3 linked regions of the Homo sapiens genome follow. The protein of the gene in region 2 interacts with the protein of the main gene of each other region in a biochemical or structural test. Each region holds a gene or a part of one and is shown on either strand. Other genes may lie near its edges. The genes, in order: PALS2, ABCA1 and SNTG2.

Region 1 (3,654 bases), on a different chromosome or scaffold from region 2:
ATGGCTCTTATTATTTTGAGGTATGTTCCTTTAATACCTAGTTAATTGATAATTTTTAACATGAAGGGTTGTTGAATTTTATTGGAAGCCTTTTCTGCTCTATTGAGGTAATTATGTAGTTTTTGTCTTTAGTTCTGTTTATGTGATGAATCACATTTATTGATTTGCAAATGTTGAACAGACCTTGCATTCTGGGGATGAAGCCTACTTGATCATGGTGGATTAGCTTTTTGATGTGCCGATTGATTTGGTTTGCAAGTATTTTGTTGAGGATTTTGACATTAATGTTTGTCAAGGATATTGGCCTAAAGTTTTCTTTTTCTGTTGTGTTTCTGCCAGGTTTTGATATAAAGATGAGGCTGCCCTCATAGAATTAGTTGGGGAGGAGTTCCTCCTCAGTTTTTTGGAATAGCTTTTCTGTAGGAATGGTACCATCTCTTATTTGTACATCTGATAGCATTCAGCTGTGAATCCATCAGGTCCCAGGCTTTTTTTGGTTGATAAACTATTTATTACTGATTCAATTTCGGAGGTTGTTATTGGTCTATGCAGGGAATCAATTTATTCCTGGCTCAGTCTTCGGAGGTTGTATATGTCTAGGAATTTATCTCTCTTCTAGGTTTTCTGGTTTGTGTGCATGGAAGTGTTCATAGTAGTTTCTCATGGTTGTTTTTATTTCTGTGGGTTCAGTAGTAACATTCCCTTCATCATTTCTAATTGTGTTTATTTGGCTCTCCTCTCTTTTCTTCTTTATTAGTCTAGCTAGTGGCTTGTCTATTAATTTTTTCAAAAACCCAACTCCTGGATTCTGATTTTTTGTTGTTGTTGTTGTTGTTTTAATTTAATTTAATTAATTTTTTTTTTTTTTTGAGATGGAGTCACTGTGTTGTCCAGGCTGGAGTGCAGTGGCACGATCTCGGTTCTCTGCAGCCTCCACCTCCCAGGTTCAAGCAATTCTCCTGCCTCAGCCTCCCAAGTAGCTGGGACTAGGCAGTCACGTGCCGTGACACCCAGCTAATTTTTGTATTTTTAGTAGAGACAGTGTTTCACTATGTTGGCCAGGCTGGTCTTGAACTCCTGACCTCAGGTGATCTGCCCACCTCGGCCTCCCAAAGTGCTGGGATTACAGGCGTGAGCCATCATATCATGCCCAGCCTCATTGATCTTTTGGAAGGTTTTTTGTGTCTCAGTTTTCTTCAGCTCAGCTCTAATTTTTGTTATTTCTCATCTTATTCTAGCTTTTGGGTTGTAAATCAGAATTTTCATTAGAGGTTGCAAAATGACGTTTTTCTGTTCTACATTATTAGCTAGTATTCTTCCATAATGTAGAGCTTCTCATCAACTGGGCTGCTTAGTGCATTTCTACTGAAGAGGCAGGAATGTACTTGATCCTTCCTTTTACTAAGTTTCAAAGTGAAGAGCTGTTTAAAATTGCAGTTTCAAGTGGTAACAAATGAGTTTTTTCAGTCTTTTTTTAAATAGCATTGTGGATCTATGGATTTTTTATTCAGTGTTTTAATCTTTTACAATCCCTACTTTTGATTTTCAAATTGCCGTGACTTTGACGAGTTGTGGGCAAATTTTTACTATAAAAATCTGAAGCACATGAGATTTCTGAACTAGAGATAGAAATTTAAGAGTTGTCAATGCATAAGTAGTGGCTCAAGTCACAGGAGTAAATGAAACTGCCAAAGGAGGATATAGGGTGGAAAACTAAGCAGCGCAGGTTAGCAACTTCCAGCATTTATAGGAAGAATCCTTACATATGGATTTATGAGTTGTTTTATTGAATTTTTTTCTCCAGTGTTTCACAAATTGTTTTATGAAATGACCAGAAATTACCAATTATCCTGATTGCTTTTTTCCCGAACCTGTTAATATTTGCTTCTTTCTATTTTGATTTATTGTTTTTGAACTTGAATTCTATCCAGCCCCTCAAGAATGTTAACTTATCTTTATGTTGAATATGCACAGTTGCAGTAAAAATTATTCTTTTTTTTTTTTTTTTTTTTGAGACAGAGTTTCACTCTTGTTGCCCAGGCTGGAGTACAATGGTGCAATCTCGGCTCACTGCAACCTCTGCCTCCCGGGTTCAAGCAGTTCTCCTGCCTCAGCCTCCCGAGTAGCTGGGATTACAGGCACACACCACCACGCCCAGCTAATTTTTTGTGTTTTTAGTAGAGACAGAGTGTTGCCATGTTGGCCAGGCTAGTCTTGAACTCCTGACCTCACATGATCCACCTGCCTCGGCCTCCCAAACTGCTGGTATTACAGGCATGAGCCACCGCGCCTGCCCTAAAAATTATTCTTTTAGGATAAGAAATGAAAAAAAATTTAACATTTTAGTATTAATTAAGAAATTCCTTGGGAGGCCGAGGTGGGCGGATCATGAGGTCAGGAGATCGAGACCATCCTAGCTAACACGGTGAAACCCCGTCTCTACTAAAAATACAAAAAATTAGCTGGGCATGGTGGCATGCGCCTGTAGTCCCAGCTACTTGGGAGGCTGAGGCAGGAGAATCACTTGAACCCAGGAAGTGGGGGTTGCAGTGAGCCGAGATCACACCACTGCACTCCAGCCTAGGTGACAGAGTGAGACTCTGTCTCAAAAAAGAAAAAAAAAAAGCAATTCCTAGAAAGCTAGATCAAAACCACCCATGCTGGTAGCACATACATAGTAAGTATAGGAGGTAAAAAAAATACGTTATATTCGGGACTATTACTGACTTGTTTTTTTGCTCAAAAAATGTTCCTTTTATAAACTAAAACCTTTATTGGTAATATAAAATTTTTTGTCACTGATATAAGATGCTAATATTTATCCATTTTCTGTTGGACATCTTTTAACAGACGTTTTCTACATATAAAAAGTATATCATATTACTAACATAGCAATGTTAGGTAAAAATGTCATTTGAATTTGAATTTTTATGGTATTTTAGTAAATAGGATTGATGGTAAATATTGAATGATATGATGACAGTGGTGGCAATAAAACCCAGTACCTTCATTGCACCAGACTGGAAACCTAGGTTCAGTTTCCAGTGAACTTGCCAGTTTTTAAAAAGCATCACTAATATCTCTTCATATCTCAAAGAAGGAATATAATATTGTTTGATGATAATAAAACTATATATTTTTATATCTCTTAAAAATTATATATTTATTTGATCAACCTGATATTTGGGAATTTAATACCATGTGCCTTGGAAATTTTTAGTACTCCATTGGAATAATGAAATAACAAAGTACTTTTAGTAACAAATTTCATCCACATATCATAAATAACCACAGGCTATTTTGACTCCTTATAGTCACTGTTGGAGGCCCATGATATTGTGGCATCAAAGTGTTATGATTCACCTCCATCAAGCCCAGAAATGAATAATTCTTCTATCAATAATCAGTTATTACCAGTAGATGCCATTCGTATTCTTGGTATTCACAAAAGAGCTGGGGAACCACTGGTGAGTACAGATAAATCAGTACCCTATTAAATCTGAAATATGACATAATTTGTGGTTCAGTCACTACTCTGTTTCATTTTTTTTCCTTTTCATAATGTTATGAAAACTGTATTCTTGTTTGGCCTGTGTATAAAGACACAGCTGATGCTTTCTCAACTTGGTTTAGCCTGCAAAATTTAACTAAAAT
Region 2 (3,654 bases):
TCTTAAGTGTCAGGACCTATTTGGTACTTTTTTATCTAATTTAAATAGGATTAGGCACCAAGTAAAATGCCTGGCCCATGGTAGGTGCTCACTAAATGGTAGTTTTTATGGTTATTATTACAGTAAATTCTCACAATAATCCTATAGAGTACATAGGCATCATCTCCCTTTTCAGGTTCAGAGAGGTTTAGTAAAAAGCATAGCTAGGAATAGTAGATCAGGAATTCAAGCACCAATTCAAGATACAAACTGCTCTTGGACCTATGGGCGGGAGTGTCGGGGCAGGAATCCACACCCTGAGAAGTAAATCTGTTTTGACACTCAAAGCTTACTTGGTCAAGTGTTGTCTGAGAAACAGAGTAGTCTTCTATGTGGAGTCGCTTTTTGCTCTGGGAGAGGATGCTGAATATCCTGGCCAGAGAAGATAATGAAGATGGAAGCTGGTATTGTAGCATGTTCCGGTGTTTCTCTTTTAGAACACTTCCAGGAAATGCAAGTCCAAAGAAATCCTGGACAGGCTTCAGGTCCGGGTTGGACCCTGCTATTCGTACAACTATTGTATAACCATCTCCAAACCTGAAAGCAGGAAAAAATACCCAAATGGAGGATCTCCAGAAAACTATTTAAAAGAATACTGAACCCTGGGAACCCAACTTGTGCCATGAAAAAGGGCGGCCCCTGGCAGGCCCAGAAATAAGTTTCTGAGAGAAGGAACCAGTTATCATTTACTAAATACTTATTTTATGTGAAGCACCATGCCATGTGCTGTAAATACATGATCTCCTTTAATCCTCACCTGGACCCATGAAGTCTGACAGATGTTACAGAGAAACTGAGGCCCAGGGAGTTAGTCACTTGCCCATGGCTCAGAGCTCATAATTGGTAGGGCCAGGATGCAAACCCATTTGTGTTTGACTCCAAAGCTTGCGCTCTCACCAGTACTGGCACATGTAAATTTTTTTCATTTCATCTATAGCACAAAGCTAGGAGGTAGATCTTCCAGGGAAACTAACTCTTACAGTAGTTAAGTCACTTGCCCAAGAGTCACAGAACCAGTAAATGGTAAAGACAGAATTTGAATGCAGTTCGGACTTCAAAGCCCTCATTCTTTCCACTATACTGTTTTGCTCAGTTTTATTTCCCTTTATGTTAGAGGCACCATTTATATACTCACAAAAGAATAAATATCAAGCCTTCTCACTAGGCACTATCCCAAAGAAATTATCTTTATTACCTATTTTTTAGATGCTGGACACTGCCAAGGCACCTGAACCTTCCATTGACCATGATTGCCATCCTAGTGCAAAGAGCTTCACATTCTTCCATACTGCGGTAAAACAGAAAGAGGTTTTAGTTTTAGAGAGATTCTCTGTAACCATGAGAACATCACCATGACTTCCAGCATTCCAGCTTCCTAGGGAATTGTATTCTGTTACAAGTACATGTGGATATAGGGATGATGCTGTTCAGTGTAGTGGTGTTTACAATTGTGAACAAGTTGGAAATAATCCAAATGTCTACAAAAGGGGGAATAGTTAAATAAGAGTATATCCTAATGGAATACTATCCAGCTATAAGAAATGACACCTAAATGCACTGACTTGGAATAATGTTTACAATATATTAAGTGAAAAAGAGCAGTATTTATACTGGGCTTGCATTTTTGTAAGAATATGCATATATAATTTCAGGTAATAATTGTTTTACTCTTTGCTTTTCTGTATTTTCTAATTTTTACAAAATGATCGCATATTCTACTTGGAAAGTTAAAACATCCCACAGTGAGGAACCCAAGACTTTACTACGGACCTATGAGATGTAAGCACTACTGATCTCCCCTCCTTGACAACACTTAGGGCACAATTCCACAAGAACCGCCGGGCTTTGGGATCCATGCCTGTGGTGGGTTCATCCTGTAATTAGAATAAAATAAGTCTTATTTGCTGGGGGGAAAAAAAATCAAAGATAAATTTGTTTTTAAATGCAGAAGCATCTTTGAAACAGCTTAAATTTTAACTTGCCATTCTAGTTATTTCTTGATGAATCAAAGAATTAGAGTAACTTTCAAATTCATTTGTAAACAAGGTCATTATTATAAATGTCTTATTGATGCAGGAAACTCAAATATTCTGAGTACTTTTTTATGTAATTAAATTTCTCCAAATAAATAGGGAAGGAAAAAGGCCATTTAGTTGTAATTATCTTTTCATGACTGATAAGTATATACAAAACAACTTTTTGTCTGAAACCTCTATTGAAGTCAGTATAAGATTGGGGTGAAATTCCTTTTTTTTTTTAATTCCAGCTCACTCAGATTACCCTAGTATATTGCAACTGTTAGCCTTACAGAAACAAATTCCAGACCGAGGTGGAATACATAAAAGCCTCAAAGGCTTCTTCCCGTAATAACATCAATGCTCTTATCTACAGAAGAAAAAAGGTCAAGGGCCACTTCCCAGTCTGATCTGTTTTTCATCTATCCGTGTGTAAGGAACTATGACCTAGTTGCTACCTTGGGGATTTTAAAGCTGTGTCCACACTCTTCATTTTCAGGGAATGAACACAAAGATGATTAGAAAGAATGTTCCAGAGAAAGATCAAATCACATATCCAGCCTCAATCACGCTAAGAAACAAAGTGCTTGGAGTGCCTCTATTTGGGAGCATCTGCAGGCATGGTACAGCCACCCCAGTGTGTGCCAAGGGAGAAGCTTCCCTCTGCTTTTCCAAGGTTGCTCTGCTGTCCCTGGGGGAAGACAAGCCAATCATACAACAGCCCTGGACATATAGGACTTTTGAACAGTCATGTTTTCCACTCAGGCCAGAACAACAGTTTTCCATCCACAGTTATACTCACCAGAAACACCACAGGAGGCCCGCCGATCAAAGCCATGGCTGTAGAGAGCTTGCGTTTGTTGCCTCCACTATAGTTACCAGCATATTTTTCTCCATACTTCACGAGGCCCAGTTTCCGAATCGCCCACTCACCAACCTACAGTGATAAAAAGCACCTTGACTTTGGTCTGGCTTGGGAATTTTATCATGCTGTCCTACACATACATGTATGAAAGTTCTTTCACTGAGTAGGACTAGATTCTATAATCATAACCTGACAACTGGTGAGGAGCCAAAGCAGGGAGAAGGGACTCGTGTGGTGGGAGCAGCACTCCCTCTCTGCCCACCCAGCCCTGCCCCACCACCGTTACAGGTTTCCACCCTGAAAGCAGATACAAAGAACCAGCATTTTGTGCTGCTGCATTCATGAGGAAAAACAGCCTGAAGTCAATGCGTGTGGAAAAGCCATAAGGTATATATTGTCAGGATGCCAAAGGAGACAGGCTGGCTTTCAGGTGCCCACAGTACCTTGCCAACTTCTTTCTCTGGGACTCCTCTCAAAAGGGCAAAGAACTCCACGTGTTCTCTCCCAGTCAACAGCTCTGTGATGGCATCAAACTGAGGGCAGTAGCCCATGTTCTGATGTACTTCATGGATGTTTGATAAGATACTGCAAAGGACAAGAAAACTACTTAGATTTTAAGCAGGTAGAGATACTCTGGTTAGACAATCTGGCCTAATGTTCCTGTAAAGTATGCTTCTCCATTACAAAGATACCAATACATCTGCTGCTACTTGAAAGCACAGCCTTTCTGCCCCC
Region 3 (3,654 bases), on a different chromosome or scaffold from region 2:
TGAGCAGGCAGTAGGAGCACCCCCTTCAGAACCAACAGCCATGCCCGGGAACCCTCAGAGCTCACCGTGCTCCCATGAACAGGCATTAGGAGCACCCCCTTCAGAACCTACAGCCGTGCGTGGGAACCCTCAGAGCTCACCGTGCTCCCATGAGCAGGCAGTAGGAGCACCCCCTTCAGAACCTAGGAACCCTCAGAGCTCACCATGCTCCCATGAGCAGGCAGTAGGAGCACCCCCTTCAGAACCTACAGCCATGCCCGGGAACCCTCAGAGCTCACCGTGCTCCCATGAGCAGGCAGTAGGAGCACCCCCTTCAGAACCTATAGCCGTGCCCCGGAACCCTCAGAGCTCACCGTGCTCCCAGCTCCTCCACGAGGGCAGAGTCCTCTGTCTGCATCCAGCTGAACCCTGAGTTCCAGGGCTCACCTGGGAGACAACAGGAATCCAATCTCACCGATGAGAAAATAAGGCACACATGACCCTACCCTGAAAAGCATCGTGCACTGAAGCATTCCCAACAAAGGAGAGAACAAAGGAGAACAGGCAGCCCGAGCTCTCGGGAGAACTGTGGGGCCCAGAAGCCCAGCATTCCCCACTGTGGGATCCTACCAGGGAACAGGCCTGGCTATCAGCTGGGATTCCTAAGCAACACTGTCACCCTAGTCACAGACGCCTGAGCCAGTGCAGCAAGGACAGGTGCTGCTTTCCAGACAGAAGGGCAAAGGACCGTGTCATTAACAGAGCCCCCTCCTACGGGAACACCTGCCCGAAGCCTCTCCACTGATACAGAAGAACCTTAAGCAGGGGGATGATGGTAATTGATGGATATTTCTTAGCAAACTATGAAAATTATCATTTTATAATGAGAATTCTAAAAAGCAGGATAGAAAATTCTATCTTGAGGATGAGTTTAACTTACAGAATATACACCAGAAAAAGCCAGAAGGAAATCTATGAGCTGCTAGATAGGTATAGACCAGGTCACAGGAACTTTCCTTCCTTGTATTTTTCCATCTCATATTCACTTTCAGTACTGAGATACGGATACCATGCCACTATTCATACAAACATCAAAGGAATAAAGGAAATGTATTTACTCCAAAGAAGGGGATAGGAAGATTCAAATCACATCCCCAAAGGTTCCCTCCATCTGCACAGCGGCACCCGAGATGCAGCCTCCAGCCCCGGGTCACAAAGGCAAGGCCTGCACGATGCAATTCTGTGACACTGGTCTGCTCCGTTCACCTTCTCCATTCAGCCCAAGGCCAGTAAAGCAAAGGCCGCCCTGAGACTTTGCACAGCCCACTGCGGGAACACCACACCCCCAGGCAGCCCCCTGCACCAGGCGACCCTAGCACAGCTGAACCCTGGACCTCCCCCCGACTCCAGGCCTCCCTGACTCCCTTCCTCCTGCCAACATGGAAATTACAAATCTAAAAGCATTCTGATTCCACCCTGATTAAAACCAAAAGAATCTGTAGGTCACGACAAAATTTGATAAAGCTTTGGAAGAAAATAATTGCAATACATAAAGCTCATAGCATTTTCATAGATCTGTGCTGGTCCTCTCCTCAATTCAATAAGGAAGAGTTGCATAAAAGAATATTTACATCCCAGCGCTTACAAAGCACGTAATTCACATATGCAGCTGTTTCCTAGTGGGTTTGTATCTTGTTCTGATAGGAAAGCTTTCAGTTTACTTCCTTTTTTCAGCTACTAGATTTTCCTCTTTATTCGATTACTAAATTTACAATATTATTCAACATAGAAATGAATTTTTTAAATATAATTAAACCTTATATAAGTGTTATACATTACAAAATATATTACAATTTGTTCTATTTCATTTTGTTGCTACAAAGAACAAATGTATTTTATATACAGAGAAAAAGTGGTCTTATCTGTGTGTGAGTCCTTATCCTTTATTACCTTTTGTTATTAGCAGTTTCAGAGTTTGGTTCTAATTTCTTAACTCTTACCCAAGCATCATTGTTTTAGATATCGTACTATCCCAAAATTTTGACTGTCATAAGGCATGTTTGATACTATAACTCCTAACATCAAAATATTAAACTATGTAAGAAATAGTACATTTTACTGTACTACATCTAGAAAGCTAAAATAGAAAATAATTTGGAAGTCCACACAATTTTTTTCATATCTCTCTGGATTTCAAATGAACCACTTTAAAAAAAAAGACCATTTATTTAGATTATAATGTATTTTGGTTACAAATTCATGTTCTCAATACCTTTCAAATTCTTAACCCCAATTTAGATAATGGTGACTTTAGAGGTTTTCTTTTTTTTCCTTTTTAAAGCAATTACAGTGTAGGTAATTGACAAAGCTTCTGCTAGTTCAGCTTCAATAAAATGTCATATCTTTGCAGAGTCTTTTTATGAAAAATCCATCTTGAAGCACCAAATCTGGAGAATATCACATAGTACTCTGCATGATCTCAACATCATTTCACTGCTATGTGTGTGGGGAGGGGCTGCATGAGCTGTTGCCATCTACTCGACTTATGAACCTGTTCCCATTTTGTATGACAACCTCAGTTATAAGAAAACAGTTGTATATTCCTCCTGATTCTGATTTCCTAATTCCTGTTGTTATCCTTTTGTCTCACAAGCAATAACCACTTAAAGGAAACGCATTTGGGGCCATTTCTCAGCCTTTGCACGTGGGATAGAGACATCTCTCTCACAGTCAGACGCCCAGGGGCTGCAGCCACCATGCGGACCACACCTCACCTGCCGTCTCTACAGTCTTATGTGTAGGTGGGGAGCATCAGCAGTACCCCAGGGGTGTTAAAGGAACGAAGCCCTCCAAAGAGCTCTTAGTACCTAGTAGATGTTAGCAATTAGGTAAGTTCTAACCTGGGGGTTCTGGGCTCAAATTCCCTACATTTCTAAGAAGATATTCCCTAAAAGCTATATTACTTACCTAAAAAGACTGATTAGCTTCCCACGGCTGCTATGACAACACTTCCTCAAACTTAGTGGCTTAAAACAATGCACATTTATCTTCTCACAGTTCTGGAAGCCAGAAGTCCAGGATCAAATTCCTCCAGAGGCTCCAGGGAGCCTCCTTCCTGCCTCCTCTAGCTCTGGTGGCTGCAGGTGCCCCTGGCCTGTGACTGCATCTCTCCCGTCTCAGTCTCAGTCTCAGTCTCAGTACCAGTCTCGCCTTCCATGTGCCGGAAGACAAATGTTGCCCGACCTCATCTATAGAAGAGGGAACACATTGTAGCTGCCCTGTGCTGTTTCGTGTCTGCTTGTCTAGAATTTGCCTCTCAGGTAGTCAGGGCCCCACTGGCCTGGTCTGAGAGGTGTTCTACTCTATTTTTATCTTTAGCTTCCAGCTCAGTGTGTGGCAATTAATAGGTACTCAATCATTCTTCTCTAAATTCTGTGTGTCTGTGTCTGCACGTACGTAAGGTGCATCATGATAAAGCAATTCTCCAAATGGCACTTAATCATCGCCAAACCCCCAACTTTCAAAAGGAGGCCTGAGACCCAGAGCTACTTCCCACCACCGTTCCCCATCCGTTGCTCCCCCTCAAGCAGGGAGGTGGTAAAATTTCTAGTGTTTCTGAGGAGGTAATACAAAGGCTGGACTTTCTCTATCTACCTTGCTGCAGACCATGATCGT

Evidence for each region.
Region 1: the proteins of ABCA1 (region 2) and PALS2 interact in a test that uses a peptide from one of them, tested with the Homo sapiens proteins (one large-scale study listed by IntAct).
Region 3: the proteins of ABCA1 (region 2) and SNTG2 interact in a test that uses a peptide from one of them, tested with the Homo sapiens proteins (one large-scale study listed by IntAct).

The regions. Positions count from the first base shown.
Region 1 is NC_000007.14:24,646,298-24,649,951, forward strand, and holds part of PALS2 (protein PALS2), read left to right. Parts: intron 1-3,314; coding exon 3,315-3,467; intron 3,468-3,654.
Region 2 is NC_000009.12:104,785,064-104,788,717, forward strand, and holds part of ABCA1 (phospholipid-transporting ATPase ABCA1), read right to left. Parts: exon of another isoform or gene 3,505-3,654; coding exon 3,363-3,504; exon of another isoform or gene 2,992-3,362; coding exon 2,857-2,991; exon of another isoform or gene 2,554-2,856; intron 1,914-2,553; coding exon 1,810-1,913; intron 1,328-1,809; coding exon 1,235-1,327; intron 577-1,234; coding exon 333-576; intron 1-332. UniProt on the Homo sapiens protein: Catalyzes the translocation of specific phospholipids from the cytoplasmic to the extracellular/lumenal leaflet of membrane coupled to the hydrolysis of ATP.
Region 3 is NC_000002.12:957,235-960,888, reverse strand, and holds part of SNTG2 (gamma-2-syntrophin), read right to left. Parts: intron 1-3,654. UniProt on the Homo sapiens protein: Adapter protein that binds to and probably organizes the subcellular localization of a variety of proteins. May link various receptors to the actin cytoskeleton and the dystrophin glycoprotein complex.